Regions from separate parts of the Homo sapiens genome. Here region 1 is linked to region 2. The links come from fine-mapping of genetic effects on gene expression. A gene starts in region 2. The other region holds a variant in brackets. All regions are shown on one strand. Distances are from middle to middle. Region 1 has its middle 49 kb from the start of EXTL2. Region 2 holds the start of DPH5 (diphthamide biosynthesis 5).

The links. PIP is the estimated chance that this variant, and not a neighbour inherited with it, causes the effect. A credible set is the group of variants that fine-mapping cannot tell apart.
Region 1: its variant is the best candidate, but not a certain one, in a credible set for the expression of DPH5 in whole blood (TOPMed, PIP 0.52).

The regions. Positions count from the first base shown.
Region 1 is chr1:100,843,640-100,848,036 of GRCh38, reverse strand. No RefSeq gene overlaps it. Among named protein-coding and RNA genes, the nearest start is that of EXTL2, 49 kb to the left of the region's middle. The variant C/T (reference allele first, on the strand shown) is at 1,930.
Region 2 is chr1:101,023,840-101,028,236 of GRCh38, reverse strand. It overlaps DPH5 (diphthamide biosynthesis 5), which reads left to right and starts at 2,453. Exons shown (of 8, transcript NM_015958.3): 1 at 2,453-2,554; 2 at 2,771-2,928. The coding sequence starts at 2,794. DPH5-DT (DPH5 divergent transcript) reads right to left here and starts at 2,391. Exons shown (of 5, transcript NR_109849.1): 1 at 2,176-2,391. RefSeq lists a silencer at 671-730 and enhancers at 2,522-2,631, 1,724-2,923.

The sequences.
Region 1 (4,397 bases), 180 kb after region 2:
GGAACCCAGTACATTTTACAGTACTAATAGTCTGTACCTCATAATTTAGTACTTATGGTAATTAAGTATCATCTTGCCTTGTCTTATGGCTTAAATGTGCCATTGTATTCCTCCTACTCTATTGTAGGCTATTGAAAGGCAAGGGCTCTACAGATTATTCTTTAGAATATCCCACAGTGTCTCAAACTGTGCTAAGTAAATACTACATATTCAAGAGATGCTTGTTCATTGATTACAGACTAGGAAAAAGCAACACTTAGTACAAACAATATGTATGTTTATGTCCAAAAACTAACATTGTTATATCTTTCAAACACATGTTAATCTTTAGGAAATAGCACAGTTCTAACGTCTTAGCTTCTTTTTTTCCCACATATTGTCCTCCTTGGTTTCGGTTTTCTTTTCTTTATATGGCATTCAGCTTTCCTGGTGATTTCTCAGGGAATTTCCAGTTTTACAAAGCAGAATATAAAAGAATGCCTTGATAATAAATAGAAGTCCCTGGCAACACAGTAGAAACACCAATGATTGCCTGTCTTAATTCAGTTAAAGAACTGCTATAATCACAAAGCAGTCTTCTCTCTTCCACTGCACAATTCTCTCATGAAAAGAAACTCTGCATTGCATCCAAAGGTCTTTAGCAAATGTTAATAACATTCCACATATTGGAGGTTTTATCACACAGGACCTCCAGCAAAGATTCCATAACAGCAATAGGAAGAAAAATATACATATATATATATATATATATATATACACACACACTCTAAATATATATACTAAGGAAATAGTAAACCTAAGAAATGCACATTTGAAAAAAAAAAAAAAACTAATCCCTGAAGGAGTTCTCAGTGCAGGACATTTGACTTAAGGAATTGTGCATTGTAAATTACATTAAAAATGTATAAAATATGCTGATAGTGATATACAGCAAAACAGCATACATATTACAAGACAACAAAGAACTCTAATGTTTGGTCAGATCTATGAATCCCTGAGATGTTGGGTTAAGTAAGTATTCCTTACATAGGAGAATCTGTGATTCAGCAGCAGAAAGAAGGAAATCTATTCTTTTGTCCTATCTTACAGTTTCTATGACTGAGGCAAAATTCATTATATTAAAGAAGCATTTCTTGTTCCAGCTAATTATAATCAGACAGTGGAGAAAAGCAGAAAGAAAACTTACATTATCAAAATGGATATATTTACAAGAGCTTAGTTCATGCATAGAGCATTAACTAAGGCCACAAGTGAAATAGCTGTATTAGGTAAGGTAGTAAACCACCAAAAATGGTATCTGACAATCATGGTGTTCAATCAGTTAAGCAACTAAGCCTAACTGTCAAGCTTCAGATATGAGGAAATGGACAAAACTATTTGGAAGGCTTATATTTTTATTAATTTAGTTAACAAATATTTATTGAGTGCCTACCATGTGCCAGATCCTTTTATAGTTACTTGGGATATATCAGTGAACAAAATAGACAAAAGCCTTTGCTCTTATGTAGCTGACATTCTAGTGAGGATATGCTGATGGCCCTTCATGTTGTGTGATATGCCGTTTTTATGAATTTCAAAACCAAAAAAATACATTGCTGATTTTGTGGTGAAACCATAGAAAGACTAAAAGTAAACATAAGCCTCAAGATAGTGGTTAACGCCTGGGAGAAAGAGGGTAATAGGATCAGGGAGGAACAAACAGGTAGCTTCAACGATATTGGTGATAGTAAATTTCTGAGGTTGGGTAATGGATTAACAGGTGTTTATTTTATTATTTTACTTTTTAAGCTAGCACAAGTTATATAATTTCTTTTGCACATATAAAATATTACATCATGAAGTATTTTTATATTAAAATAGGAATGTTTTTAAAAAGAGCAAGTGGACAGGGCATGGAACAAGGGAGATAGCCCATGTAATTTAAAATGG[C/T]CGAGAAAGTGGCTGGCAAGATGGCCGAATAGGAAAAGCTCTGGTCTGCAGCTCACAGTGTGATCAACGCAGAAGGTGGGTGATTTCTGCATTTCCAACTGAGGTACCTGGCTCATCTCACTGGGACTGGTTAGACAGTGGGTGCAGCACAAGGAGGGCCAGCCAAAGCAGGGTGGGGTGCCTCACCCAGGAAGTGCAAGGGGTTGGGAAACTCCCTCCCCTAGCCAAGGGAAGCCATGAAGGACCATGCTGTAAGGGATGGTGCTATCCAGCCCAGATACTATGCTTTTCCCATGGTCTTTGCAACCCACAGACCAGGAAATTCTCTTGGGTGCCTATGCCACCAGGGCCCTGGGTTTCAAGCACAAAACTGGGCGGCCATTTGGGCACACACTGAGCTAGCTGCAGGAGTTTTTCTCATACCCCAGTGGCACCTGGAATGCCACCAAGACAGAACTGTTCACTCCCCTGGAAAGAGGGCTAAAGCCAGGGAGCCAAGTGGTCTAGCTCAGCGGATCCCACCCCCAGGGAGCCCAGCAAGCTAAGATCCACTGGCTTGAAATTCTCGCTGCCAACACAGCAGTCTGAAGTCGACCTGGGATGTTGGAGGTTGGTGGGGGAGGTGCGTCAGCCATTACTGAGGCTTGAGTAGGCGGTTTTCCCCTCGCAGTGTAAATAAAGCCACAGGGAAGTTTGGACTGGGTGATGCCCACCACAGCTCTGCAAAGCTGCTGTAGCCAGACTGCCTCTCTAGATTCTTCCTCTCTGGGCAGGGCATCTCTGAAAGAAAGGCAACAGGCCCAGTCAGGGGCTTATAGATAAAACTCCCATCTCCCTGGGCCAGAGCACCTGGGGGGAAGGGGTGGCTGTGGGTGCAGCTTCAGTAGACTTAAATGTTCCTGCTTGCTGACTCTGAGGAGAGCAGCGGATCTGCCAGCACAGTACTCAAGCTCTGCTAAGGGACAGACTGCCTCCTCAAGTGGGTCCCTGGTTTGCATGCCTCCTGACTGGGAGACACCTCCCAGCAGGAGTTGACCAATACCTCATACAGGAGAGCTCTGGCTGTCACCTGGCGGGTGCCCCTCTGGAATGAAGCTTCCAGAAGAAGGAACAGGCAGCAATCATTGCTGATCTGCAGCCTCTGCTGGTGATACCCAAGCAAACAGGGTCTGGAGTGAACCTCCAGCAAACTGGAGCAAACGTGCAGCAGAAGGGCCTGACTATTAGAAGGACAACTAACAGAAAGGAATAGCATCAACATGAACAAAAAGGACATCCACACAGAAACCCCATCCAAAGTCACCAACATCAAAGACCAAAGGTAGATAAATCCACGAAGATGAGGAAAAACCAGTGCAAAAAGGCTTAAAATGCCAAAAACCAAAACTCCTCTTCTCCTCCAAGGTATCACAACTCCTTGCCAGCAAGGGAACAAAATTGTATTGAGAATGAGTTTAACAAATTGACAGAAATAGGCTTCAGAAGGTGGGTAATAAAAAACTCCTCTGAGCTAAAGCAGCATGTTCTAACCCAACGCAAGGAAGCTAAGAAGCTTGAAAAAAGGTTAAAAGAATTGCTAACTAGAGTCACAAGTTCAGAGAAGAACATAAGTTACCTGATGGAGCTGAAAAACACAGCACGAGAACTTTGTGAAGCATACACAACTATCAATAGCCGAATTGATCAAGTGGAAGAAAGGATATCAGAGATTGAAGATCAACTTAATGAAATAATGCATGAAGACAAGATTAGAGAAGAAAGAATGAAAAGATATGAACAAAGCCTCCAGAAAATATGGGACTATCTGAAAAGATCAAGCCCACATTTGATTGGTGTACCTGAAAGTGACAGGGAGAATGGAACCAAATTGGAAAACATTCTTCAGGATATTATCCAGGAGAACTTCCCCAACTTAGCAAGATAGGCCAACATTCAAATTCAGAAAATTCAGAGAACACCACAAATATACTCCTTGAGAAGAGCAAACTGAAGACACATAATCATCAGATTCACCAAGGTTGAAATGAAGGAAAAAATGTTAAGGGCAGCCAAACAGAAAGGTTGGAATACCCACAAAGGGAAGCCCATTAGACTAACAGCGGATCTCTCTGCAGAAACCCTACAAGCCAGAGGCGAGTGGGGGCCGATATTCAACATTCTTAAAGAAAAGAATTTTCAACCCAGAATTTCATATCCAGCCAAATTAAGCTTCATAAGCGAAGGAGAAATAAAATCCTTTATAGATAAGCAAATGCTGAGAGATTTTGTCACCACCAGGCCTGCCTTACAAGAGTTACTGGAGGAAGCACTACATATGGAAAGGAACAACCAGTACCAGCCATGGCAAAAACATACCAAATTGTAAAGACCATCAACGCTACAAAGAAACAGCTTCAACCAATGGGCAAAATAACCAGCTAGCATAATAAAGACTAGATAAAATTCACACATAACAACATTAACCTTAA
Region 2 (4,397 bases):
AACAAACATTTATTTAATACCTATTATGTGCAAGGGATAGTGCTAAACCTAAGATGAGCATACAAATAAGATGCAGTCCCTGAATTAACTAAATCAATAGTTTGGTAAAGAAGAAATACAAATGAACAAATATAAAATCTCATAAATTGGTTAGTAAGTATATGTAGAGTAATACTGTAATGAAGAGGAGAAACCTAAATTAGCTTAGGGGGGTGAGGGTCTCTGGGAAGGCTTCCTGAACTTGGTCTTAAAGAATGGGTATTAGTGATCTAGGCAGGAGAGAATGGGAGACAATATTCTATGATGAGGCAGCAGCGTAGAGGAACAAAGCAGCATGTTGTGGGCAGAGAACTACAAGCAATTCAGTATTGCTGGAGAGAAAGCGAGAAAGCTCATGGTATGGAGTGGAGAGAGATGATGCTAAAAAGGTAGGCAGTGGCCACACCACGAATGATCTTGTGGGGTATGTTAACAAACCTGGACTTTCTCTTGGCCTCAGAAGGATCTAGAAGGGGTGTAATATTTTCAGATTGTTAACTATAACTCTCTGACCCCCTTGAGTGAAGGAGACATTATTATCAGCTACAAGAGTGACAAAATGAGGACCTGAGAATCAAGATGGTGATAGACGGTATGGTTTCTATTGAGATATACAGGCAGACATGACAGACGATGTGGGGGTGACTCCCAAGTGTCTGGCTGGGGTTAATCTGTTGATGACAATACTCTCCTCACCCACCCCCACCCCCGACCCATCCAAGTAGATAATATGGAAAGAAAAGCAAAATGGAAAGGGAAGGTGATGGATTCAACCTTGGATGTGTTGAATATGCTTCCGGGTTATCTAGGTGAAGATTTCCAGCAGAACGTTAACATGAAGCCAAGAGGGAGGAAGTCTGGATAGGAGGCTGAAATTTGAATCTACAAAATATTAGCGATACTAGGAATTCTGAGTGAACAGCCAGTTTTTGTGAGGTTTTGTTTGTTTTACTTAAGCCATTCTAATAGGTGGGTTGTGGTAGCTCATTGTGATTTAAATGTTTATTTTCCTAATGTCTAATGATGTTTAGGATCTTTTTTTGTTTGTTTAAGATCTTTTAAAATAATTATTTGCTATTTGTGTATCTTCTTTGGTGTCTATTCAAATCTTTTGCCCATTTTTAAACAACGAACTGTTTTATTATTGCTTTCTGAGTGCTCCTTATATATTCTCCATACAAGTCCTTCATCAGATACATGCTTTGTAAATATTTTCAGTATGTGGCTTCAAGTCTTTTGAAGAGCATAAATTTTTACTTTGTTGAAGTCCAATTTATCAATTTTTTTCATCACGCTTTTGGTTTAAGAAATATTTGCCTAAATAAGGTCACGAATATTTCCTCCTATGTTTTCTTCTGGTATAGGTTTAGGTTTTCCATTTACATCTACGATCCATTTTGAGTTTTTTGGGGTGTGTATGTGGTGTGAGGAATAGATCAACGTAATGAGAGGGGATAAAACACAGCCACGAAGAGTTTATAGATAGGAAGTGCAAAAAGGTGGATGGAACCTGGGAATGAAAAAAAGCCAAGGTTCAAGGAAGCGGAGTTGGGCATTGTCGGGGAGGCAACAGGAAAATTCTGAGTAACCAACACTGCCTGCTAAGAAAAGCAATGACAGCTGTCTTTTTTAACTTGGATGAGGTCACCTTGGGAAGAGCATTTTCAGTCAAAACAAATCTTCCCTATTTCTAATTACATGTAACCAACAGCTTTATAAGAATTCCCCCGGCAGAAACACTTGAGAGGTCTGAAATCCCTGAGCACTATTAAAGGTCACTTCTTTAGGTACAGGAAGGTCTGGGATTCCTGACACTGAGGGTGACTGAAACATCCTTGGGGCACTCCAGGCATAAGGTCTTGGGGACAAACCCAAGGAGTCATTGCCTTGTTGGGAAATCAGAAGCACACTCACTGCTGGGTTTGCCAATCTCACGCTTCACCAGGAAGACACCTAGTTGAACTACAGGAGGATGAGAAGACTGGAATTAAAATCTGTGCACTCGGCCAAATCCGGGGACAAATCAGGAAAATCCTTCCCAGCCCTCCCTGTTTCTGGAGAGGAGGAGTAGGGCGCAGGGCCCCTCCCGACTCTCTTCCACGTGGCTCCTCTCGAGCGAAGAGCTACTGCACTTACCCAGGCTTAGGAAGCGGGTGTTTAAGCCATGGGTTAGAGGGCTCGTGAGCACGCCCGATCCTTTCCCTGAGGCTATGAAACGGTGGCTCCACGGACTCCTCTCGGCCGACTGACCTTTCGCCGCCCTGCCCCAGCAGCCGGCGGGTTTCTTCAGTGGAGCCGGGCTCTGGTCTCCGCAGCCCAGTAGCCCGCTAGCCCGGCCCCCTCCCGCTAGTCGTAAAGTGCAGTAAAGGCACCAGCATTTTGCGGCACCGTAGGTGAGGCCGGCGGCGTGGGCCTTTTCTCTGCACGGAGCCGGCGCTTTTGCAGTTGCTTCTGCGGAAAGGTGGTAGTTAAGAATTTGTAAAGGCCAGAGAACTACCTACGATTCTCTCAGCGGGTAATTGGCTGCTCCTAGGTTTGTGTAACAAGAGGCAAAACTGGTAGGGTTGTTTAAAACCTCTTATCCCAGTTCTTAAGCGTGACATAAGGTTCCCAAACCCCTCCTTGTGACTTGCCTCTTCTCTTGTGCTACTTTGGTTGTCATCGTGTTCATCACTAGATTTTAGATGTCCTCGGTGTTACTGACGGTTTTTCTGTCCACTTCGTCTTGCAGTCTCTCTTCTCCTCAAGTTTGAAATGCTTTATCTCATCGGGTTGGGCCTGGGAGATGCCAAGGACATCACAGTCAAGGGCCTGGAAGTTGTTAGACGCTGCAGTCGAGTGTATCTGGAAGCCTACACCTCAGTCCTAACTGTAGGGAAGGAAGCCTTGGTAGGTGCTGAGCGTTCCCCAGCCTCCTGGGAAGAAAGCTATCTAACATCTGATTTTCATACACTAAGCTGAACAGAATTTTCAGGTCTGCTTGTTTAAACCCTTTGAAACGCATCCCTTGTTCATTAATGATCTGAGGAGCAGAAGAATGGAAATTTTACACCAACCAAGTGACTTGGAAAATGAAAGGGTGCTTTGTCCTATTTTACAAGTCTAATTTTGTGGCTTTCTCCAGTAAATAGGAAAGCTATTTTATACTCCTGGGGGATAGTTATCAAAACCCCTTATTTCATGAGGTAGTCAAGAAACCCTTTCTGAGTTGAGTGCTAATGAGGAGCTGACACAGCCTTAATGAGTTGGTTATATATATTCAAAAACCAAGCTGAAAGCTTCCCCCTTTGAAGTGTGTCCATAGGGAATGGCGATTGCCTTTTTGTATCCTATCCAGAGAGATCTTATCTTAAATAGACTATCTCCCAATAAGGCTTATACTGATACACTTGTATATATTGAGTGAGCCTGGACTTAATATATAAAAATGTATGAGTATACACTTACATGAGTATACACTAAGTAACCAAAGTATTTGTTAGTATATTATACATTTATAGTTGGCCCTCATAAGGGCCCAGTAAATTTGGGGGAAGGGTCAACTTCAGGTTCATTGTCAAACTCTAAGTAGAATGTAAATCAAAGGATTAATACATATGTTATGGGAGGAGGGAGCAGATTTATTGTCATGTCTTCCAAACAAAAAATAGACTTAAAATTTTTAGGCCTCAGATTACTTTAAAATCTTATAGAAGGAATTAAGAACTGCTACTTGAATTGGCCATGCATTTAAATAAAAGTTGTGTGTAAAGACCAACTTTGATATATACATATATGTGGAGAGAGAGAGAAAATAAGTCTTGCTCTGTTGCCCAGGCTGGGGTGCAATGGTATGATCATGGCTCACTGCAGCCTCAGCCTCCTGGGCTCAAGTATCCTCCCACCTCAACCTCTCGAGTAGCTGAGACTACAGGTGGGTGCCATCATGCCCAGCTAATTTTTTGTATTTTTTGTAGAGACAGGGTTTTGCCACATTGCCCAGGCTGGTCACAAGTTCCTGGACTCTAGTGATCTGCCCACCTCGGCCTCCTAAAGTGCTGGGATTGTATAGGCACAAGCAACCACACCCAGCCTAAGGCCAGCTTTGATTTAAAAAACATTTTTTTTTCTCATTTTTTCACTCTTAGGATAGAACCAAAATATCTAAGCTCGAAATGATGGAAATGTGCGTCTCTAATCAGTGATTAAGGAAAAGTAAAAGGAACTTAACACCTTCAAGAAAAGACAGACAAATAACAAAACAGCAGTTTGATAGAATGAGATATCAGGGGATGGCATAGAGGAAAGTTTGGTTATAGTTTTATCTTTGTTACATGTTAATGTGACCTTGGACAAGTCCTTTAACTTTAGTGTCTTTT